2 linked regions of the Homo sapiens genome follow. The protein of the gene in region 2 purifies or fractionates together with the protein of the main gene of each other region. This does not show direct contact. Each region holds a gene or a part of one and is shown on either strand. Other genes may lie near its edges.

Region 1 (3,650 bases), on a different chromosome or scaffold from region 2:
AGTTTGATTCACACCCCATCCATGAAACTAATGGATCAGACTTTGAGAAAGAACCTAACCGCAATGCTTGTTTCTGAGTAAAGAGGTTAATTGTTTCACTGAGTCATTAATACAAATCAGTTCAATACAAGCAATAATCACTAAATGTTCAACACTAAGTCAATATCTGTATATGTATATGTACATGTATATCCACACATACAAATATACAGTGACTCTGGCCATTCTGTTCATGGAAAGAATGGTTTGTGATTGCTTTTCTTTCCAGAAAGCCTGCCAAAGTCATTAATGCCTGGGATTATCGGCAACTAAGACAAAAGTTTTTAAAATGCAATATAGCCCTAAGATGCAAGATACAGCTTCCAGGTATAAAATGTCTCTAGCTTTCAGACTTTGCAACTGGAGAGCCCACATCCACCCTAATGTTAAATGCTGCATTTTCATACAGATGTTACAGGCTATGAAAACTGTTCAAGGGCTAGATGCACCCACACCTCCACATCATTGAGCAGACCAGATGTAAATAGCAATATTTTTTGGCACAAATAATCACCAACATTAGTTGTACTGCAAATAAAATTAGGGGCCGGGTGCGGTGGCTCACGCCTGTAATCCCAGCACTTTGGGAGGCCGAGGCGGGCGGATCACAAGGTCAGGAGATCAAGACCATCCTGGCTAACACAGTGAAACCCTGTCTCTACTAAAAATAAAAAAAATTAGCCAGGCGTGGTGGCGGGCACCTGTAGTCCCAGCTACTCGGGAGGCTGAGGCAGAAGAATGGCGTGAACCCGGGAGGTGGAGCTTGCAGTGAGTGGAAATCGCGCCACTGCACTCCAGCCTGGGCGATGGAGTGAGACTCCACCTCAAAAAAAAAAGAGAAAAGAAAATTAGGGAGAGATCATATGATATGGTTTGGCTGTGTCCCCACTCAAATCTCATCTTGAACTGTAGCTCCCATAATCCTCACGTGTCACAGGAGGGACCCAGTGGGAGGTAACTGAATCACGGGGGCGGGTTTCTCCTCTGCTGCTCGTGACAGTGAGTAAGTCTCAAGAGAGATCTAATGGTTTTATAAACGGCAGTTTCCCTGCACACGTTCTTACGTGCCTCCATGTAATATGTGTCTTTGCTCCTCCTTTGTCTTCCACCATGATTGTGAGGCCTCCCCAGCCATGTGGAACTGTGAGTCCATTAAACCCTTTTTTCTTTATAAATTACCCAGTCTAGTGTTTCACAGAAGTATAAAAATGGACCAATGCACCATAACGGCATGTATTTAAATCACTGCTCTTATAATTCATATTTTACCTAAATTTACAGAACAGGCGTCGTTTATTAAGCACCTCACCCTCATTACTAACCCTACAATAACCCTGTCAGGAACACATTATGCAGTTGATAGACAAAAAAACAAAACTGAGGCTAGTTACCTGTGTCCAAAGCTTCACATCTAGTAAATTGAAGCCACACTGCAAACCCAGGCCTGTCTGCTTTCAATCACACACTCTTTCGAGTAAATACCATAAATTATTTGCTTCAACCTGGACAAATGAAACAATAACAGACCTTCAATTGTACTTTTAAAAGTCCACCATCAGTGTAAAACAAAAAAAGCAGCCTAACATTTACAGCTCGACAAGTGACGACACAAAGCATATCCATTAGGGCAACTGGTTCTTAGGAAGACACTGCAACGTGCGGTAAAGATATCCGTGCCCCTTCCCCGCTTTTTTTAAAGAGACAGAGTCTCACTCTGTGACCCAACCTGGAGCGCAGTGGTGCAGCCATGGCTCACTGCCACCTTGAGCTCCTGGGCTCAAGTGATCTTCCTGCCTCAGCCTCCTGAGTAGCTGGGATTACAAGCACATGCCACCATGCCTGGCTAATACTCCCATCTTTAAAACGAGGAAACTGAGATTCTAAAAGTATAAATGGCTTTCCACCATTATTGGTCTGCTGCAGCAATAGGACCAGGGCCAGTGTTTCAACTCTTCCCAGAGAGCCTAGAAAAAAGTAATTTTCAGGTTCAGTGAAAAGAAGTTAAAGACAAGCAAATTATAAACCATGTAAGCTGGCAGCAGCCATCTGAAAAGCAAAAACTATGATTACTGGAATTAGGGTCATGATGGATAGTGATTTTCAAACTAACATTACATTAATTTTCTGACGGCATGCTCCAATTTAGAAAACTGTATTGCAGAACCTTAATGACATCTGCCAACTAAAAATTTAAGTAAACCAAATCGAGCAGAGCATATGATGTTTCTGACAGGTGTAATTTAGAGATAGTACATAAAATTGGAAAATCGCTGTTGTCTTTTTATACACGGAAATAAGAAAAAGCTGTCCTTAATAGTTTTTTACTGAATTAACATCAAGTCTGGAGGATACTTAAGTATTAAATCATTATCTCATTGAAAAGCTAGTTTTAATTAAATACCTTTTTAAAGTTTTGTATATAAAACGAAATCTTGAAGTACTGTGAAGTCCAGTCGACTATTCCCCTTTGCCTGTGGCTGACAAATCAAGCCTTATCATGTATCTCAAATTAGAGGAATAATGAGGTACCAGGTGTGCACTAGAGTAAACCAAGATTAAAATTATATGTTTTAATGAAAACCTCTAAAAGGATAGTTTTATCCATGAATATATAATAAAAGTCAAATCCATGGCTTCTTAGTATAAGTGATGAAAACTCTTAATCATGTTAATAACTATATGAAAATCTTAATCTCTTTTAAATACCCAAAATCAGTAACTATCTCTATTTTAGCACCTCCTCTTTAAATAGACCCAGTTTGGATGGTAGAAGGAGTCCTCTGGCTACTGCTGCAATAATTCTATCTTCTGGGCAGACAGAAACTACTGTCTTTTGTAACATACGAATAATCCACCTCATTTCCCTCCAGACAAGGGAAATGTTCTCCAAGAGTCCCAGCTGTAACTAAGGAGGTGCAGGGCGACTCCCACTGTCTACCAGGTGATGGTCCAGCCAGCAGCTGGTGGCCGCAGCCCTTGTCTACATTAACTGCCACTGAAAATGATCATAGCCACTCTTTCAGTGGCTGAATACAGAGTGGGTATGGACAGCGAATGTCAGGAAAGAATGGGGAATACTGTCCATGTTAACCCTTCTGAAAGAGAAAGGAGGAGGAGGCGGGGAGCAAGGAGGCGCTGAGACACCTCAGCTACAGAGCACTGCTTGCGCTCCTCTCCAAGTGCCCCTCCACCCCCAGGCCACACTGAGCACCCGGCATCTGGGCAGCCCAGCTGCCAAATGTCAAAAACCAGGTCAGGGCCTGAAACTCAAAAGGCTAACTCCAATGAGAAGCAGGATGGTAAGCTTGGATCAGCAGTGAGACACTGCAACCTATAAAACCAAAACTCAACCTCTCCCTTAGGAAATCATTCCTCTCCAAGAAGCCAATTTTCTCTGCCCTTGTATCTAGCACCAACTTGTTTTCTTTTAACAGAAAAATATTTCCTATGAAATAACTGAGAAAGCAAAGCAAAGCAAAAAGAAACAGCTCTTCCCACCCCAATCCTCACCCACCCTGCAGGAGGTCAGCATGGCAAGAGGACACTATTTGGGGGTGGGGGAGGTGTGGGGTTATGGCTGCTAAAAGCATTTTCAAAATAGGCTCATAAAT
Region 2 (3,459 bases):
CCATAAAAAAGCTACTTCAGTTCTCACTTGCATTTTGAAGGAAAAAAATGTGTATCTTCCATTTTAGACTGAAGCATTTTGGTCCTCATGTGTAGCTGGCTGATGAACTACACACACACACACATATATATATATATACACACGCACACATATATGTGTGCATGTGTATGTGCATAATTTTTAAAGAGTCTCATTCTTCTTTTTGTACAGCGGTTCCAGGTGTGGAACGGGGTCCATTTGACCTAGAAGCTTTGGCAGAGGGAGCAGACACAGTATTCACTATGTTGATTTCATCATCAAGCAACTGGCAATCGGTTTTACATGCTAAATCACCCATTTCTACTTTCTGCTTTCACTTTTTTTGTTCCTTTTTGCAGTCACACTTTTCACTGACTTGGTATGACCTTGACTGAGAAGCTCATTTTACTACTGATGAACAATGCTGATGATTCTGATGTTTTTTAAAAGTTAGTATTTTGATTTAAGAATAAATTAACAAAGGGTAGTTTCATACTATTTTTGCATATTGTGTCAAAGTTTTGGTGCAATATAATTTTCACCTGAAATGTTATTAGATAAATTTGGGTTCAATCACTTAAGTGAAAATTAGTCACAGGCTTGTTATAGGGAACACTGTGTTAAACAAAAAAAGCAAGTTCAATTTTTCAATTCATCTGGCAACTTTAACAGAGATCCTCAGAAAGAAGTTCTGGATATTCAAATGCTTACTATAGAGAGGATATAAATAGTTGGACTCTCTAAAAAGATTATTACAGGCATTATTTCTGAAGATGGACACCTTTACCTTTGGCTTCTAGTGAGGAAGTAAACATCAAAGTGAGAAGAAGTTTGAGGCATTTCCTATCTGCCTCTTCCCTTCCCTCCCAGGGGACATGAATGTCACACTGATATACTTCTGAGAACTCACTGCTAAATACATGAAAAGAAAAATTATTCATAGCGAACAGCTGCCTCTCTGCTGCATTATCCCCAAAGAACAGGAATTAAATACATCTTTTATTCTTTATTTAAAATGAGAGGTAGACTTTCACAGAAGTATCTTAGATTTAAAGAAAATGTGAAACAAAACAAAACTGGGGCCATCTGTGTGACTGTTCCACCCAACAGCCTCACTGCCCTCCCTCGATTAATTCCTTCTCTACTAGCTTCTGGAAGCCCAGGCCCCAAATAATACTTGAATACAACATAAACCTGGAATTCAAGCTTCTTTCCTTTCCTCCAACACAGGTGATCAAAGAAAAGCTTCTACAGTCCAAAGTCAAAACGTTTCCGAATCAGAATCATTTTCATTGTACCCATCCTCCGAGCCTACGTTGTTACTGCACAGGCTAACCATGCTACCCAGATTGGAGAGGGTCGTCCTGCTCAAATTGTCTTTTTTTAAACAAACGAAGTTGACAGCCATCATTGTACTGGAAGGAGAAAAAGGCATCATGGTAGCCAAAATGAGGGCCAGGCAGTCAGCCACGTCTTTGTTAGGAGCGCAAGCCAGGGCCGGGGTATGACCTGGGCGTAAATGCAGACAAGGCAGTGGTTAGTCCTGGGGAGCCTAGAGGAGGCACGAGCATTCCACAGTACATCTCGGATGATCTCACAGGCGGAGATGTATGTTGAGTTAGAAATCATGCCAGGTAAAACGAGGAGTTACTTCTCACAAGTCATGCTAGGGGTGAGGCTAGAGGGGGAGGGAGGGGGAGACATTTTATGGAGGGCTTTTTATTTTTGTTTTCAGCTCATATGACTATGACAAGCACAATATCATCCAAAGTTAGGCAGGATTCCAGCCTTCATTTAGTGAACACAAACACAAGGGGGTGGGTGTGGGACACAATTCCACAATAAACAGCAACAGGACAATCAGGAGGATGTTTCCGCCTGAGAGCACACACACACCATGAGCCTCAGGCCTGGGCCTGAGAAGGACTCTCATTCTGAGAACAATGACTTTCCATTGTTAGGTAATTGTGTGTCCAATTAGAAAAGATATTGAAAATTAGATGACTGCAAAAGTGAGTAATGAAGTTTTGTCACTTTATATATGCTTCATAGAAAATAGACACCAATAACTGGTTTTAGAAAAATGGAATCATTTCAGTAGATCAGAGACAGGAAAGCACAGGTTGTTTGTGATTAAAAATGTACAATCATTTAGGAGAAATTTAACAAATTTTTTTTTTGACAGAGTTTCACTCTGTCACCCAGGCTGGATTGTAGTGGCATGGGGCCTTGATTTTACTACAGCCTTGTCTTCCGGGCTCAAGCAATCCTCCCACCTCAGCCTCCCGAGTAGCTGGGACTATAGGTGTGTGCCACTACTACCGGCTGATTTTTTCTTTTTTTGGTTTTTTTTTTTTGAGTCAAGGTCTTGCTATGTTTCCCAGGCTGTTCTCAAACTCCTGGGCTCAAGCGATCCTCCCACCTTGGCTTCCCAAAGTCCTGGGATTAAAGGCGTGAGCCATCACACCTGGCCTAACAGAATATTTAAAAATGGCCACTCACCAATCAAAGTCTCAAATCTAAAATGTAATGGATGTGAGAAAATTACTATGCTTGTCATAATTAGAACCATGTTATTCTCATTTAGACTCAATGGATCCAATCCAGATAAGAAAACTGTCTTAACTCATAATATAGGTTCCTTGGGGAGGTAGATTAAGTCTTTGACTTGATTATTTCCTTATCCAACCTTTATCCTACTGGCCTGAAAAGGGTTAGCTGCCTTCTCAGCTGGCCAAAGTTTCCACTACACAGTGAGTAGGGCACTTGCTCAGTAATTCAGAGGAATGGCTCAATGAAACTTAACGTTTTGTTGTTTTGTTTATCATCACTCGACCTGCTCTCCCCACCCTGCCCTTTAGGACATCATTCCTTTTTCTGGTATGAAAACAAATAAGAATGAACAGGTAGTTTAACATTCCATTTCACGAAAGTCAGTGATGAGTAAAGGAATTATGGTTGTACTGCTATATAAAATTGCCCCAAACGTTCCCAGGCCTTTGGGATGCAGGTGCGCACCAACCCAGGGCTCTTGTTCCTAAGGTCACTATCAGCTGAACAAACCTTCAATGCAGCAGATTTACACCAGGAAAAGCAAAACTAATTTATTCTATTCTCTTTGACCATTTTGGAGAAAAACTGTGGGCCTCTGCAGGCCAACCCTAAGTCTACAGTAGTGTTAAGAGGGTGAGGGAAGGTGAGGCGGGAAAACCAAGGAAATGGAGTAATAGGGAACTTTCTGCACTTCCTAGATGAGTCAGGTGGGGGACACAGCAGGGTACATGCTAGGATACATGGGGCTGCAAAATCAAAACTAATAAGAGTTAGCTAATGATAATCAGTATGGCTGCTTACTTCTGAGAAATAGGCATGAGCTGCTAATTCCAATACCTGTAATAAGCAGTTAATTGAGTTACATTAATACATTATAATACTTTAATT

Evidence for each region.
Region 1: the proteins of ANKRD44 (region 2) and MTCL1 purify together in Homo sapiens (affinity purification with mass spectrometry; 4 studies listed by BioGRID and IntAct, with this or other methods). This does not show direct contact.

The regions. Positions count from the first base shown.
Region 1 is NC_000018.10:8,712,030-8,715,679, reverse strand, and holds part of MTCL1 (microtubule cross-linking factor 1), read right to left. Parts: intron 1,539-3,650; exon of another isoform or gene 1,431-1,538; intron 1-1,430. UniProt on the Homo sapiens protein: Microtubule-associated factor involved in the late phase of epithelial polarization and microtubule dynamics regulation.
Region 2 is NC_000002.12:196,989,401-196,992,859, forward strand, and holds part of ANKRD44 (serine/threonine-protein phosphatase 6 regulatory ankyrin repeat subunit B), read right to left. Parts: intron 3,409-3,459; coding exon of another isoform or gene 3,356-3,408; exon of another isoform or gene 1,747-3,355; intron 1,697-1,746; coding exon of another isoform or gene 1,680-1,696; exon of another isoform or gene 1,528-1,679; coding exon of another isoform or gene 1,280-1,527; exon of another isoform or gene 250-1,279; coding exon 191-249; 3' UTR 1-190. UniProt on the Homo sapiens protein: Putative regulatory subunit of protein phosphatase 6 (PP6) that may be involved in the recognition of phosphoprotein substrates.